2 separate regions of the Homo sapiens genome follow, and region 1 is linked to region 2. The links come from fine-mapping of genetic effects on gene expression. Tissue or cell type: whole blood. Region 2 holds a variant in brackets; the other region holds the start of a gene. All regions are shown on one strand. Distances are from middle to middle.

What was found. PIP is the estimated chance that this variant, and not a neighbour inherited with it, causes the effect.
Region 1: EPRS1 starts here. The variant in region 2 is fine-mapped to the expression of EPRS1 in whole blood (INTERVAL, PIP above 0.99). The same link has a PIP of 0.9 or more in blood mononuclear cells.

What each region holds. Positions count from the first base shown.
Region 1 is chr1:220,042,330-220,051,416 of GRCh38, reverse strand. It overlaps EPRS1 (glutamyl-prolyl-tRNA synthetase 1), which reads left to right and starts at 4,912. Exons shown (of 32, transcript NM_004446.3): 1 at 4,912-5,074. The coding sequence starts at 5,029. RefSeq lists enhancers at 4,701-4,770, 4,831-5,160, 5,202-5,759.
Region 2 is chr1:220,020,803-220,028,802 of GRCh38, reverse strand. EPRS1 (glutamyl-prolyl-tRNA synthetase 1) reads left to right here. Exons shown (of 32, transcript NM_004446.3): 7 at 3,545-3,671; 8 at 4,347-4,539; 9 at 6,285-6,456. Among named protein-coding and RNA genes, the nearest start is that of EPRS1, 22 kb to the left of the region's middle. RefSeq lists an enhancer at 1,571-2,072. The variant G/A (reference allele first, on the strand shown) is at 4,018.

The sequences.
Region 1 (9,087 bases), 22 kb before region 2:
AGGTGTAATTACAGGCATACAGGATTACAGGTATATTACTGTGCCCAGCCAAATATGCCATCTTTTAGCCAAAGCTTTCCTTTACCATTCTGTCTTTCCTTCCTCACTCAACATGGATAATCATCTTCCATCTTCTGAGCTATCTTTGTACTTTCTGCAAAGTTTATTATTTTTACTCTCATTTCAATTTTTTTTTTTTTTTAGACAGAGTCTCACATCTCACTCTGTCACCCAGGCTGGAGTGTAGTGATGCGATATCGGCTCACTGCAACCTCTGCCTCCTGGGCTCAAGCAATTCTCCTGCCTCAGCCTCCAGAGTAGCTGGGATTACAGGCATGTGCCACCAAGCCCAGCTAATTTTTGTATTTTTTGTAGAGATGGGGTTTCACCATATTAGCCAGGCTGGTCTCAAACTCCTGACCTCAAGTGACCCACCCGCCTCAGCCTTCCAAAGTGCTGGGATTACAGGTGTGAGTTACTGCACCCCGGCCCCAAAATGTTTTTAATATGAACATATTTCTATTGCTACATATATCTCACTGTGTAGCAATTTTTATTTACCTTGTGTTTTTGTTTTGTTTTGTTTTGTTTTTTAGACACAGTCTTGCTCTGTTGCCCAGGCTGGAGTGCAGTGGCGCAATCTCAGCTCACTGCAACCTCCACCTCCTGAGTTCAAGCGATTCTCCTGCCTCAGCCTCCCCAGTAGCTGGAATTACAGGTGTGTGCCACCATGCCCGCCAGGCTAATTTTTCTATTTTTAGTAGAGACAGGATTTCACCATGTTGGCCAGGCTGGTCTCCAACTCCCAACCTCAGGTGATCCACCCACCTCGGCCTCCCAAAGTCTGTAGCCTTCTTGGTCAGGCACGGTGGCTCATGCCTGTAATCCCACTACTTTGAGCAGTTGAGGGAGGAGTATTGCTTGAGTCCAGGAGTTCAAGACCAACCTGGGCAACACAGACCCCATACCTACAGAAAATAAAAAATTAGCTAGGCATGGTGAGCATGCCTGTAGTTCTAGCTACTTGGGGGGCTGAGGTGGGAAGATCGCTTGAGCCCAGGAGATTGAGACTGCAGTGAGCTATAATCGTGCCACTGGACTACAGCCTGCTCTGTCTAAAAAAAAAAAAAAAAAAGTTTGGGCGTGGTGGTTCACACCTGTAATCCCAGCACAGAATCCCAGCACTTTGGGAGGCTGAGGCAGGTAGAACACCTGAGGTTGGGAGTTTGAGACCAGCCTGGGCAACATGGTGAAATCCCGTCTCTACTAAAAATACAAAAATTAGCTGGGCATGGTGGCACACACCTGTAATCCCAGCTACTCAGGAGGCAAAGGCAAGAGAATTGCTTGAACCAGGGAGGCGGAGGTTGCAGTGAGCCCAGATCATGCCAGTGCACTCTAGCCTGGGCAACAAAATGAGACTCTATCTCAAAAAAAAAAAAAAGGCTTCTTGAGGACAGGGACTTCACCTTTCATCTCTGTATCTCCTGTTTATGTACACAATAATAAGGAGTGAAAATCCAATACCCATTCTTGATTTTAAAAAGAATCCAGGGCTGGGCACGGTGGCTCAGGCCTGTAATCCCAGCACTTTGGAGGCCGAGGCGGGCAGACCACCTCAGGTCAGGAGTTCGAGATAAGCCTAGCCAACATGATGAAACCCCATCTCTGCTAAAAATACAAAAATTAGCTGGGCGTGGTGGCAGGTGCCTGTAATCCCAGCTACTTTGGAGGCTGAGGCAGGAGAATCACTTGAACCCAGGTGTCGGAGGCTACAGTGAGCCAATATCATGCCGTTGCACTCTAGCCTGGGCAACGAGAGCGAAACTCTGTCTCAAAAAGAAAAAAAAAAACCCTGTTAACCTAAGAATATATAAGAAACCAGCGGCAAACACTATTCTTTTTTTATTTTTATTTTCAGGGAAAGGGTCTTGTTCTGTCATCCAGGCTATAGTGCGGTGGCGCGATCATAGCTCACTGTACCTTCAAACTCCTGGTCTCAGGTGATCCTCCCATCTGGGCCTGCCAAAGTGCTGACATTACCAGCAAGAGCCATTGCAGCCAACCTAGCAGACACTATTCTTTTTTTTTTTTTTTTGAGACAAAGTTTTGCTCTTATTGCCCAGGCTGGAGTGCAATGGTGCCATCTAGGCTCACTGCAACCTCTGCCTCCTGGGTTCCAGTGATTCTCCTGCCTCAGACTGCCAAGTAGCTGGGACTACAGGCATGCACCACTACTCCAGGCTAATTTTGTATTTTTAGTAAAATGACGCGGTTTCACCATATTCACCAGGCTAGTCTCGAACTCCGGACCTCAGGTGTTCTGCCTACCTCAGCCTCCCAAAGTGTTGGGATTACAGGTATGAGCCATTACACCTGGCTTACAGACACTATTCTTTAACATTTTTTTTTTTGAGACGGACTTTTTGCTCTTGTTGCCCCGGGCTGGAGTACAGTGGCATGATCTCTGCTCACTGCAACCTCCAGCTCCCAGGTTCATGCGATTCTCCTGCCTCAGCCTCCTGAGTAGCTGGGATTACAGGCATGCACCACCACGCCCAGCTAATTTTGTATTTTTAGTAGAGACAGGGTTTCACCATGTTGATCAGGCTGGTCTCGAAGTCCTCTACTTAGGTGATCCACCCACCTCGGCCTCCCAAGTGCTGGGATTACGGGTGCGAGCCACCGTGCCCGGCCACAGACACTATTCTTGATAATGCAACATTAGCGGCATTCCCACTAAAGTCAGGAACAAAGCAAATACTCTCTTATTCGACACTATTATTGCTCCCATTTAACATCATTCTGGAAGTTCTAGCCAATGAAAGAGATAAGATATAGGTCATGTAAATTTTGGATAGGAAGAAAATGATATTTACCTAGAAAATCCAACATAACTAAAAAATGATTGGAACTAGTAAAAGCATCCAACAAGATGGTAACTCTAAGACCTAAGACTTTCTGCTATAAGTCCCACTATCCTGAAAGTAGGCTTCTTTTTTTTTTTTTTTTTTTTTATTGAGATGAAGTTTTGCTCCTGTTACCCAGGCTGGAGTGCAATGGCGTGATGTCAGCTCACCGAAACCTCTGCCTCCCAGGTTCAAGCGATTCTCTGGCGTCAGCCTCCCGAGTAGCTGGGATTACAGGCATGCACCACCACACCCAGCTATTTTTTTGTATTTTTACTAGAGATGGGGTTTCTCCATGTTGGCTTGGCTGGTCTCAAACTCTCGACCTTAGGTGATCCGCCCGCCTCAGCTTCCCAAAGTGCTGGGATTACAGGCATGAGCCACCGCGCCTGGCCTCAAGTCTCATGGGAGATGTAATCTAAGGGGCCCTCCCTAATGAAAACAAGGATGTCTTGGGGAGGTTAAGAAAAAGTGTAGGCGAGGATGTGGTTGAGATGGTTCTTGGAATCCATCCCGGGTCCCCGTACTTTAACACCAGCCCTTGAAATATGGGTGCAGCTCACACACACGAATGTGTGTATACACCTTGGAGTATCTCTGGAGCTCATGCATGCACGTCCGTCACAAAGGATTTGAAAGGGAGAATCAGATGAGACGCTGAAAAAAACACCTGTGGACTCCATGATTGGGGGCGGCATCGGAGGGTTTTTTTGTTTTGTTTTTTAGATCAGGTCTCTCCCTGTGTCGGCCAGGCTGGAGGGTAGTGGCTACTCACAGGCAAGTCCACGGCGAGGCCACTACAGCCTCATCTTCCTGGGCTCAGGCGATCCTGCCTCAGCCTTCTTAATAGCTGAGACTACAGGAGCGCGCCACTGCGCCTATCTGCAGTGATTTTTTGTTTGTTTTGAAACGGGGTCTCAGTCTGTCGCCCAGGCTGGAGTGCAGTGCCGCGATCTCGGCTCACCGCAACCTCCTCCTCCCGGGTTCAAGCGATTCTCCTGCCTCAGCTCCCCAAGTAGCTAGGATTAAAGGTGCGCGCTACCATTCCCGGCTAATTTTTGTACTTTTAGTAGAGACCCCCGTCTCTACAGTTTCACCATGTTGGTGAAGCTGGTCTCCAACTCCTGACCTCGAGATCCGCTCGCCTCCGGCCTCCCAAAGTGCTGGGATTACAGGCCTGAGCCACCGCGCCCGGCCTCTGCTGTGATTTTTTTTTTTTTTCTTTTCGAGAAGGAGTCTCACTCTGTCGCCCAGGCTGGATGCAGTAGCACGATCTCGGCTCACTGCAACCTCCACCTCCCAGGTTCAAGCGATTCTCCTGCCTCAGCCTCCCAAGTAGCTGGGATTACAGGGGCCCACCACCATGCCAGGCTAATTTTTGTATTTTTAGTAGAGATGGGGTTTCACCATGCTGGCCAGACTGGTCTCGAACTCCTGACCTCAGGTGATCCGCCCGCCTACACCTTCTAAAGTGCTGAGATTACAGGCGTGAGCCACCACGCCCGGCCTGCAGTGATTTTTAAAGAGTCTTTTATATTTCCTTTAACCATTATTTTCAACACGCAAATAACTCTTGAAAATACGTTCTTGTTTTGGAAAAAAAAAAACGGGGGGGAATGTATAAAATAAACAACGAGAAAAACTTCTCCCATTCCCAACGTAATCATGGCTATCGTGTGTATGCTTCCAGGACTTTTCTTTTTACATAAAGACAGTGCATGCTTTTGTTTCGTGCTTCACATAAACGCCTATCCCATCTTAAAGATGGTTTTACAACCTGCTGTTTTACGACCTGCTGACTTGACGAAGTGTCGTAAAGTCCCGTCCACTTCAGCGTCTTTCCCACCGCAGCACGAAAGGCCACGCAGGCCGTTCTAACCCTGGCGGCCAAGAGGAGGGGTAGCAGGCTCTGGAACCTGCGGGCGGGGACGAAGACGGCGCGCGACGATGTCGCACCGCGGCGTGCGCGGTGTCGGCAGTAGCTGCGGCGCAGGGGCGGAGCGAAGGCTGCGGCGGCGTCGGGTACGCGCACACGTTGCATCTTCTTCCTTTCGCGGGGTCCTCCGTAGTTCTGGCACGAGCCAGGCGTACTGACAGGTGGACCAGCGGACTGGTGGAGATGGCGACGCTCTCTCTGACCGTGAATTCAGGAGACCCTCCGCTAGGTAAGGGGCCGAGACCAATGACCTGTGTGGGTTGCATCAGCCAGGGAGGGTGCAGGGCGTGGAAGGTCGCTGCGCCCCGGCTTTGCGCAGTGGTGGTCACCATCTGGGATGTTGGACCTGCCCCTCGCCCCAGAATTGTACGTGGAGGAGGCTCCGCACCCCTCGCCCCGTGTCCCCGGCAGGTGCATCTGCTCCTGAAGATGGTTTTCCCGGGCATGGAGGGAGGCGCAGTGTGAGCCCGGGCTAGACAACACGAGACTCCGCTTCGGATCTTTTTCTCAGAGGGATGAACTCCCAGTCAACTCACCTCTCCCTTTTTCCCCCGGAGAGCGAGAGTTGCTCGTGGAAATAAGATTTTAAAACTTAAAATCCAATAGTCGTCGCTTCTCTTTTAGCATTTTTCCCCCAACTCCTTTTCTTACCTCCTTTCCTGTCCTGTCCCTCCTCTCAGGAGAAATCCTCAGTTCACTTGAGTCAAATTTTCCTTACGTTTTATCGAGTTCAGAAGAAATAACCCAGACGAGCATATTAGCATTTAGGATTTCAACTGAGGCTGCATTTATTTTTAATTAAATGTGGTAGGGTAATTGGGGAAAACACCCAGGTACACTGTAGACTGATGCGGTTGCTTTTACTGCACCCTGTGGATGTGTAGTAAATTTCAGAGTAAACATTGGATCTGTCACCTTACTGACACATCTTAAGTTCTGTTTGGAATTATTTTTTCGACATGACCAAGATTATTGTTGGTAGATTGCTTAGAATTTCTGCTTTTTCATTACTTTGGGAAATTACACAGAAGAATTTAAGTAGTTTGCCGATTTTTTTTTTTCTTTTGAGAGTCAGGGTCTTGCTCTATCGTCCAGGCTGGAGTGCAGTGGCGCTTTCAAGGCTCACTGCAGCATCGAACTTCCGGGCTCAGATGATCCTCCCACCTCAGCCTCCTTAGTAGCTGGGACTACAGGCGCGTGCCACCATGCCTGGCTAATTTTGTGTTTGTGTCTTTTTTGGAAAGATGGCGTTTCACTGTGTTGCCCAGGCAGGTCTCAAACTCCTGGGCTCAAGCCATCCTGACTTGGCCTCCCAAAGTACTAGGATTACAGGCGTGAGCCACAGTACCCAGCCTGACCTAATATTTGTTAATGCATATGTATGATAATACACACACAGTACTTTCTAATGTTGAAGAAGCCCATACCTTTATATACAGTTGACCACGTGGGGCTGATGAAATTATTCATTATATTCTCAACTTTGGTGATGTTTTAAGGTTGTTGAACAAAAACACAACTTAATAGCCATTTTAAACATTTAAAAGATGGTAATGTTTTGGCATATTGGTTGCAGTAATGGACTAACCGCACAACAAATCAATGAACTCTAAAAGGAATGGGTTTGATTCCTGAGCTGGAAAGGCATTAGAGTGCCTTCATGATTGAGAGCAAAGACATTTGGTTTCTGCAGACCTGAGTCCAATCCTGGCTGCCACTTACTAGTTGTGAAACCTTGACAAGTTCCTTATTTAGCTTCTCCCATAGTTTCCTTGTTTTAAGAAAGGGAGAATAATGTCTTCCAGATAGGATTGGTTGCCAGAGTTAAGTGAGACTATAGTTAAAGCTCCTGATACTGTTTTTTTTTTTTTTTTTTTTTTTTTTTTTTTTGGAGACCGAGCTCATTGCAACCTCTGCCTCCCAGGATCAAGCAATTCTTGTTCTCAGCCACACGAGTAGTTGCGCTTAGAGGTGCGCACCACCATGCCCGCCTAATTTTTGTATTTTTTAGTAGACACAGCATTTTGCCATGTTGGCCAGGCTGGTCTCAAACTCCTGACCTCAAGCAGTCCGCCCGCCTTGGCCTCCCAAAGTGCCAGGACCACAGGTGTGAGCCACCATGCCCAGCCTCCTGATACATTTTTTGTTACTTAGAAAATCACCCTGAAGGTGGCCTGTTTCTGTAGTGTATTACAGAACTCAGAATTCTGCCAGTATTCTGTGAAACTCTTGTCATTTTGAACTGTATGCCAGTTATCAAATATATCATTTTTCTAATTGCTCCTCTCCCTTTTTAATTTTTGATTTAATTATTCCCAGTTTAATTCAATTACATTTTATCTTTAAGTAATATAATTAGATGAAACATTTTAAAATAATAGTTGCATTGCTAGAATTTTCCTATTTTGTATGCATTCATCATGTTATATATTTAATGTTAATTTCAAACTTAAAATAAAGACCTTTTTCCCCCATACCACCCAAGAGCATACTGTAGATATGAGGCTTCAGTATCTCAGCATAACTCCAGTGTACATCCCCAACAAACTTGGAAACTCCAGGTGATCTCACACAAGCACCCAAATCAGGAAATACACTTGGATACAATGCTTCCATCTAATGCACAGACCCCATCCTTGTTCTATCATTATTTGTTACAACCAGACCCTCCATAGTGTTGAGATCAAAATCCCGTATTATGCTTTGTTTGCATCTGATTGTCACCTCTCTCCAGTTTCTTTCAGTCTGGAATGGTTTCCTAGTCTTCCCTTGGCTTTCATAGCTTTGACCTTTCTGAAGATAACAGGCCACTTAACTTGAAGAATATCCTCTGTTTAAGTTGTCTGATATTTCCTGGTGTCTAGATTCAGGCTCTTTGTTTTTGGCAGGAATAGCGTAGTTATTCCTTGTTCTTCATTGCAGCCCATCAGTTGGTGCATGAATTTAATTTTCCCATTACTGATTATTCTAACCTTAATTTTAATGGGCAGATGCATTGGAATCATGTAAATGTTCCACTTTGCATCAGATCTTCACCCACTAGTTTCAGTATCCATTGATACTTCCTGCCTAACTTGATTTTTATGATTTTATGATGTTTGCGAGATAGTGACTTTCCCATTCTACCATTCCTTCTGTATGTATTAGTTGGCATTTTTCTGTGAGGAGAGCTTTCTCTTTTTCCCATTTAAAAAAATCATAGCAAAAATACTCAAGAAGTTACAATTTGTATTATTTTCATTTTCTATTTAAAATTATTTTGTTTTTAAAAATTAGTTTTATTGAATTATAACTTGTATACAATTGTTCACCAATTTTAAGTGATTGACAAATGTGTACAATGTGACAAATGTGACAAGTGTGTAATCTACACCACAGTCATCATGTAGAGTATTTCCATTACTTCAGAAAGTCCTCTCACGCCCCTTTGCAGTCATTCCTTTCCCTACTCCTAGCACCTAATAGCGACTCATCTTCTTTTTGTCACTTTTTTGCTTTTTCTATAATTTCATATACATTGAATCATATTATATATATTCTTATATTCTCATATGTGCCTAGGATAATACTTCTGAAATTCATATATCTTTTTGTCTATGACAGTAGTTTACTTTTGTTGTTGTTGATGTTGTTTTTTGTTTGTTTGTTTTTTGAGATGGAGTCTCACCCTGTCACCAGGCTGGAGTGCAGTGGTGCGATCTTGGCTCACTGAAACCTCTGCCTCCCAGTTTCATGTGATCCTCCTGCCTCAGCCTCCCGAGTAGCTGGGACTATAGGCGCATGCCACCACGCCCAGCTAATTTTTTGTATTTTTAGTAGAGACGGAGTTTCACCATGTTGTCCAGGATGGTCTCGATCTCTTGACCTCATGATCCGCCCCCCTCAGCCTCCCAAAGTGCTGGGATTACAGGCATGAGCCACCACGCCCGGCCAGTAGTTCATTTTTTTATTTGCTGGATAAAATTTCATTGTATGGGTGTGCTAAAATTGATCTCATTTATTTCGATGTCATTACCCTGATTTGCCAGTGGAAGCCCCTCCAACCTGGACTCTGTCCTTTCTTTCTTTTTTCTTTTTTTTTTTTTGGGAGATGGGGTTTCATTCTTGTTGCTCAGGCTGGACTGCAGTGGTACGATCTTGGCTCACTGCAAACCTCCACCTCCCAGGTTCGAGCAATTCTCCTGCCTCAGCCTCCCAAGTAGCTGGGACTACAGGCACATGCCACCACGCCTGGCTAATTTT
Region 2 (8,000 bases):
GCCAGAAGGCTTGGCTTAGTCTTTTATTCTTATTCTTAGCTAACATATACATAGCACCTATTATGTACAGGTGCTACCACATGCTTTACTTATAGTAACTTATTAATCCCAACAGCCTTCTGAGGAGGCACTGTTGTTATCTCTGTTTTACAAATGGTTTCGGAAACAGATTCATATGTTGTAGTAACTTGCCAAGCTCAAACCTCTACCATCTGGCTCTAGAATCCATATAATTAAAAATTGTACTACATGTATCTGTTAACATATGGCAGAAGCCCAATTCAGCATCAGTTCTAACTCATGCAGCATGATTCTTTTGTGTGTGTGTGTGTGTGCGCGTGTGTGTGTGTTTTAGCGATTCTGATATAGAGTCACTCTTTAACTGATGATTTTAGTTGTCTTGTGACTTATAGTCCTCTTAGCTTTCTTGAGGTTTGGAATTGTTAGACCTGCAGATTTAGAAATAACATTTTTGAAATAATGTTTTGATCTCATCACCTTTCTTAAATTAATTTCTGTATTTTAAAGCCAAGCACATTAACTGTAAAATAATAGGTACTAATTGTTAATCTTTTCTTGACAATGGTTATAACATGTTATTGGGTGCAACGCCCTCAAGTTAAAAGTACACCACAATATTTTTCTTCCTGGGAACTTATGGCCCTTCATTTAGTTTTATTTTTAATAAATTTTTAATTTTAGAATAGTTTTAGATTTACACAAAGTTGCAAAAATAGTACAGAAAGTTTCCATGTACCCTGCACCCAGTTTTTCCTAACATTAACATTTTACATTATTATGGTACATTTGTCACAACTAATGAACTAATATTAATATGTTATTAAACTCCATCCTTTTTTGGGATTTTGTTAGTTTTTCCCTAGTATCTCTTTTCTGATCTAAGATTTCATCTGGGATATCACATACAGCCCTTTTTTTAAAAAATTTTTAATTAATTAATTAATTAATTTTTTGTATTTTTAGTAGAGACAGAGTTCCGCCATGTTGGTCAGCCTGGTCTTGAACTCGCGACCTCAGGTGATCCGCCTGCCTTGGCCTCCCATAGTGTCGGGATTACAGGCATGAGCCACTGCACCCGGCGTACAGCCCTTTATTATATGTATAAAGTTTTGAATAGCCCTAAATATGTTGCATTGTAGTTGTTTGCATTAGTCTTTGTATATAAACCCTCCTTTTTTTTTTTTTTTTTTTTGACATAGCCTCGCACTGTTGTCCAGGCTGGCGTGCAGTGGCGCGATCTTGGCTCACTGCAACCTCCATCTCCCAGGTTCAAGCAATTCTCCTGCCTCATCCTCCCGAGTAGTTGGGATTACAGGCGCCCACCACCACGCCCAGATAATTTTTTTTTTTTTTTGAGATGGAGTCTTGCTCTGTCGCCCGGGCTGGAGTGCAGTGGCACGATCTTGGCTCACTGCAAGCTCCACCTCCCGGGTTCACGCCATTCTCCTGCCTCAGCCTCCCAGGTAGCTGGGACTACAGGTGCCTGCCACCACTCTCGGCTAATTTTTTTGTATTTTTTTTAGTAGAGACGGGGTTTCACTGTGTTAGCCAGGATGGTCTTGATCTCCTGACCTCGTGATCCACCTGCCTCGACCTCCCAAAGTGATGGGATTACAGACGTGAGCCACCGTGCCTGGCCAATTTTTGTATTTTTAGTAGAGACGGGGTTTCACCATGTTGGCCAGGCTGGTGTTGAACTCCTGACCTCGTGATCTGCCCGCCTCCGCCTCCCAAAGTGCTGGGATTACAGGCATGAGCCACTGTGCCCGGCCCAAGCCCTTCTTAAAGTTGAATCATTGATCTGGGATGCTAATGACTTTTAAAAACTTGATTGATTTGAAAATAATGTAAATTCATAAACTTTTATGAATTTTTATATTATTTTATTTTATAAAATAATATAATTTCATAAACTTTTCCCCCTCCCATATGGATATCAACTGAGATCAAACCTGTGTGGGAAACCAGGTAACTATCTTAAAACTGTACAACTGCTGGCCGAGGCAGGCGGGTCACAAGGTCAGGAGATCGAGACCATCCTGGCTAACACAGTGAAACCCCGTCTCTACTAAAAATACAAAAAATTAGCCGGGCATGGTGGCAGGCACCTGTAGTATCAGCTACTTGGGAGGCTGAGGTAGGAGAATGGTGTGAACCTGAGAGGCAGAACTTGCAGTGAGCTGAGATCACGCCACTGCACTCCAGCCTGGGCGACAGAGCGAGAGTCCGTCTCAAAAAAAAAACAAACAAAACAACAACAACAAAAAAAACTGTACCACTGCTGCCATCATTATAATTTGAAACTAATACAAGTTGGTGAAAGCTGATTAAACTTCCTTGCTTCATGCCTTGTCAGCCCAATCAACTGTATTTCAACATAGTGGTGTAACATATTTTCTTTTACTCATGTACTTGATAGAAGGAGGGTGTTGATGTGTGATATTATCAACAGTGTCTCTGATCTGTATTCTTCCTTACAATTGTCAGCTGCTCACAGGAACAGCAGAACAGTGTTTTTGTAGATTCTGATTCATTGAGTGTTGGTGCTGATGAGACCTTTGGGATTATTTAGTTAAAATTCTTTTATTTTTAATCTCCGTGACATGAGTTTACCTATATAACAAAACTTCACATGTACCCCTGAACCTAAAATAGAAGTTAAAAAATTAAAGTTAAAAAATAATCTTTTGGCTGGGTGCGGTGGCTCACGCCTGTAATCCCAGCACTTTGGGAGGCCAAGGCAGGCGGATCACGAGGTCAAGAGATCGAGACCATCCTGGCCAACATGGTGAAACCTCGTTTCTACTAAAAATACAAAAATTAGCTGGGCATGGTGGCGCGTGCCTGTAGTCCCAGCTATTTGGGGGGCTGAGGCAGGAGAATCGCTTGAACCCAGGAGGTGGAGGTTGCAGTGAGCTGAGAACGTGCCACTGCACTCCAGCCTGGGCGACAGAGCGAGATTCCGTCTCAAAAAAAAAAAAAAAAACTTTTATTTTGGCATCTGAGAAAACCAAAGCCTAGAGAAGTAAAGCGGCTTTTACTAATTGTCATGTGCTCTTTTCATTTAGTCATCACAGTGACAGTCTCAGAAGAGCTTCTCTCCAGTGGCATAGGTGGGCACCCAGTTCTCAGTAGTAGTAGGTCTTATTAAAGACAAACAGTGGAAGGTAGCGTTGGAAACAATTTTGAAGCAGCTTTACTTTAATTAAATGATCATTCTTTTTGATAAAAAGAAAAAGGAGAATCTCCTTAAGGTTGCAATGTTTGTAAATACCTTGTCCCCTCTGTGAGATTTTACATTTGAAGTTGTTTCTTATAATTGTTTTATATATGGTATAGTCTTTTTTTTTTTTCCTGTCAGGGTCAGATTTTCTATCACAGTACTTTTTGTTAGAAAATAAAATATGACTTGGGTACCAATTAGAAGGACTTTTGTTTAGTTCTCATCTCCTCAAAAAGGTTAAGTTTAAGTATTTAGTTAAAACATGTTAATGAGTTTCTTTGTGAAATGTTTTTGTTTTAGTTACTTACACATTGGGCATGCAAAAGCTGCTCTTCTGAACCAGCACTACCAGGTTAACTTTAAAGGGAAACTGATCATGAGATTTGATGACACAAATCCTGAAAAAGAAAAGGAAGATTTTGAGAAGGTAATTAAAAGTGTAGTGATGACCCTTTGCCAGAAAAGTGAATTAAAGTTACAGGATTACCTAATACCTTCATGGTATGAAAATAAATTTTGTTCTCATAGCTGCTTTTTTCCCTATCTATATATTCCATATCTGAGACCTAAGCCAAGAAATGTCGAGCTCCCATACCAAAAAACTTAAGAGTTATTTTTCCTTTCCCCAGTTATAGAGTTTACCTGAATGATATGTTTTCCTATAATACCAATTTATTAAATGGTCACTGGAGGCAGGTTTTTTGGTCATATAATCTTAAGTTTATGAATGAAATAAACACTAAGTAGGTATTGGAAAATGTGAAGGTTTCCTA[G/A]CCTCTTATCTTTATTCAGAAGTATGGCAGTGTATTCAAAGAGAGGGCAAATGATTGTCAGTTCTCCCAGTAATGACCAGCTTTTCCAAAGTAAATGGAAAACTCCATCGTGAGATCAGCTTTCTCAGCTGGAAATTTGGAGGCTAATATAATGAGTATCTATCTGTTTTTTCTTTTTTGATCTAATATCATGTAACTTCCACAACCATTTTCAGGCTAAATAAGACTGATGGTCTATGTTACATTTGCTTAAATGCAGTATCAAGGGTTGAAAATGCACGAAAAAATGCAAAAGATATACTGATGGTTATTTTGGTTTCTTACTACAGGTTATCTTGGAAGATGTTGCAATGTTGCATATCAAACCAGATCAATTTACTTATACTTCGGATCATTTTGAAACTATAATGAAGTATGCAGAGAAGCTAATTCAAGAAGGGAAGGCTTATGTGGATGATACTCCTGCTGAACAGATGAAAGCAGAACGTGAGCAGAGGATAGACTCTAAACATAGAAAAAACCGTAAGCCACATTGTTTTATATTTTAATTGATATTCTTATATTGTGCTTCTTTAGTAGAACGTGATTTCTTTTTTGTGAAAGCTGCTAGTTTTTTTGTTTGTTTGTTTGTTTTGAGAAGGAGTCTCGCTCTGTTGCCTGGGCTGGAGTACAATGGCGCGATCTCGGCTCACTGCAACCTCCGCCTCCCAGGTTCAAGTGATTCTTCTGCCTCAGCCTCCCAAGTAGCTGGGATGACAGGCGTGCACCACCACACCTTGCTAATTTTTGTATTTTTAGTAGAGACGGGGTTTCACCATATTGGCCAAGCTGGTCTCGAATTCCTGACCTTGTGATCTGCCTGCCTTGGCCTCCCAAAGTGCCGGGATTACAGGCATGAGCCACCGTATCTGGCAAAAGCTGCTAGTTTAAATACATTTGGGTATATGACTCATTTGTCTTAGAAATCTTTTTTCTTCCTCTATCTTTATGTTCTTGTTATTTTATTAACATCACAACTGCATGTGAATATGCCCTTAGTATCTCACTTATTATGTGTAGTCTTTTGCATTGTATTCATTCAATTTGAAGGATTCCTTCTGCAACATTTTACAGTTTTCTTACTTTAAATACTTAGCCTTTCTATAATACAATGTTTGATGATAATGTTGTCACCCAAGTCTTCCTTTTGGCATGTGGGTAAATATGAATATAATATATAGTACAAGCTCAGTACTAACCTGTATCTCTGAAATATCACTTGACTGAAGAGCATATCTTTCTTATTCATGGCTTCTCTCCTGAACTTCTAAATTGGGTGATTTTCATTCTGTAATTATGTTGTCAGAACTTCACTATAATTAAACCTGGAGTGCCACATTTGGGAAGTATTAGTAAATTAAAATAGTTATAATGAGTCTTTTTTATTTTGAAAAGGTTTTCTACATTTTCAGAGGTGGCTAACCAATGGACTTTTAGACCTATCTTGATTATTTGAGGGCAAGTGTCTTACATTTCTAGTAGCTTCCACAGAAAATTATTGTTTAACAGTTTGTATGCATACAGGGCAGGTTTTTGCTAGATATTGTGATATAGAGGGAGCCATAGCCACTTGGAATGTAGAGTCCTTTTTTCTGGTATTAAACTCTTTTCTTTCCTGTGTCACTGTTTTCTATCACCTCTTATTTTCTTGGATCCAAGAGTATCCTGCTTCTCATTGGGATGATGAAGGGGCTTTCAGGGAGCCCATGAGCTCAGACTCTCAACCTGAGCTGTGTTCTTTAGATAGGCACGGTCTGTAGTGCCAATGCCTGTGGGACCTTAGGGCCGGACCAAACCATTCTGTCCCTTAGGCATGAGGTGGCAAAATAAGAATGCTTCTGCTTTAAAGGCAGAATGTTAAATTTCAGGGAGATGAGAAGAGAAGGGGCTGGCCCGTTGTGCCATGATGGGAAGGGAAACACTAGGTGAGCGGAGCCTTCAGGCCTTGTACTTTTTCTTATGCTTAATTGATACCACATGAGTGGAATGTATTGATGTTACCTTTTCTAAAACGTATTTGTATTTGCTAAATGTATTGTGAAACTTCTTTAATTAAAAAATGACGCATTTGCTCTTGGTACTGGATACTGGAAATATTACAGTGTTTTTAAACTAACACAGGGTGGTTATAAAACAAGAACATGAAAATTTATATCAAATTATAGCACTATGAGAATAATTTGAATTTAACCAGATTAGTGAACCGTAATGTAATTATCATTTTATAGCTATTGAGAAGAATCTACAAATGTGGGAAGAAATGAAAAAAGGGAGCCAGTTTGGTCAGTCCTGTTGTTTGCGAGCAAAAATTGACATGAGTAGTAACAATGGATGCATGAGAGATCCAACCCTTTATCGCTGCAAAATTCAACCACATCCAAGAACTGGAAATAAATACAAGTAAGTATATCTCCTTCAATATGCTAGGTAGCCATCTGTGCTTTTGTTTTGATCTTCTTTAAACATGGAGTACAAGCAAAATAGTCAAGAAACCTGGCCTTTTGTTCATCCATGGGTTCACTGGCTGGTGGCCTTCTGTAAAGGCATGTAGCCTTTCACGGGCCGTTTACTCACCTGTCAATTAAGGTTCTACCACATTATTTCTAAGATCACTTCCATCTATGAAAGTCCTGAGTCTGCCTAGAGTTGCTTTTTTTGTATTGATTAGGTATACTGTGATGTACATCTTTAGGTGAAGATACTTTGCTTCCTGTAATAAACTTTGAGTCTACTTTGCACAAATTGATTCCTAAAAGTAATAGTATTGAAAACTTCCAGAAATATGAACAATACAGGAGAGTAACATGTGTTTAGATTAGTTTTCAATGTGGATTTGTAGGTTAACGAATCTTTGTTTTAAATGGACCTTTTCCAAAAAAAAAAACCCTACTTTATAAAATAAATCATAAAAAATATTTTTTAATACTTTGAAGAAGCGTACTACACATAAATGCTGAATTAAAATTTCTGAAGAGAATGGTAAATGTAAATGATTACTTGGTTAGCTGATGTGACTTACTTTAAACTCATGGGTGCTGACATGTCTGTCCATATATAGACAAATACACATGTGATTATATGTGCATACATATCATTTTTCTCAGGATTACTCCTTGTTTTACTAAGCAAATCCTTTCAATACATTTGGAAAAGTGACTTTGGATACACATTTTCAGTGTCAAATAATTGCAAAGCATAATGCAGTAGCATCTTAATCAAGTTGTATCTTAAAAGTTAGAATGTATAATGGCTGGGCACAGTGGCTCATGCCTGTAATGCCAACACTTTGGGAGTCTGAGGCAGGAAGCTCTCTTGAGGCTAGGAGTTTGAAACCAGCGTGGGAAACATAGCAAGAACCTGTCTCTACCAAAAAATAAATTAAAAAAAAAAACTAGCCAGGTATGGTGGCACGCTTCAGTAGTTCTAGCTGCTTGGAAGACTGAGGCAAGAAGATTGCTTCAGTCCAGGAGTTCAAGGTTACAGTGAGTTGTGATCATGCCACTTCACTCCAGCCTGAGCAACAGAGTGAAACCCTGTCTCTAGACAAACAAAAAGGAAAGCATTGGTTGGGTGTAGTGGCTCATGCCTGTAATACCAGCACTTTGGGAGGCCTTGGTGGGTGGATCACTTGAGGCCAGGAGTTTGAGACCAGCCTGGCCAACATAGTGAAACCCCATCTCTACTTTAAAACAAATACAAAAATTAGCGGGGCATGGTGGCGCATGCCTGTAATCCCATCTATACCTGGGAGGCTGAGAATCACTTGAACCCAGGAGGCGGAGGTTGCACTGAGCTGAGATCGCACCGGTGCACTCTAGCCTGGGTAAAAGAGCGAGACTGTCTCCAAAAAAAAAGAAAGAAAGCATAATGCACTAATATATATATATATATATATATATATATATATATATATATATATATAAATTCAAATTGATACTGCATGT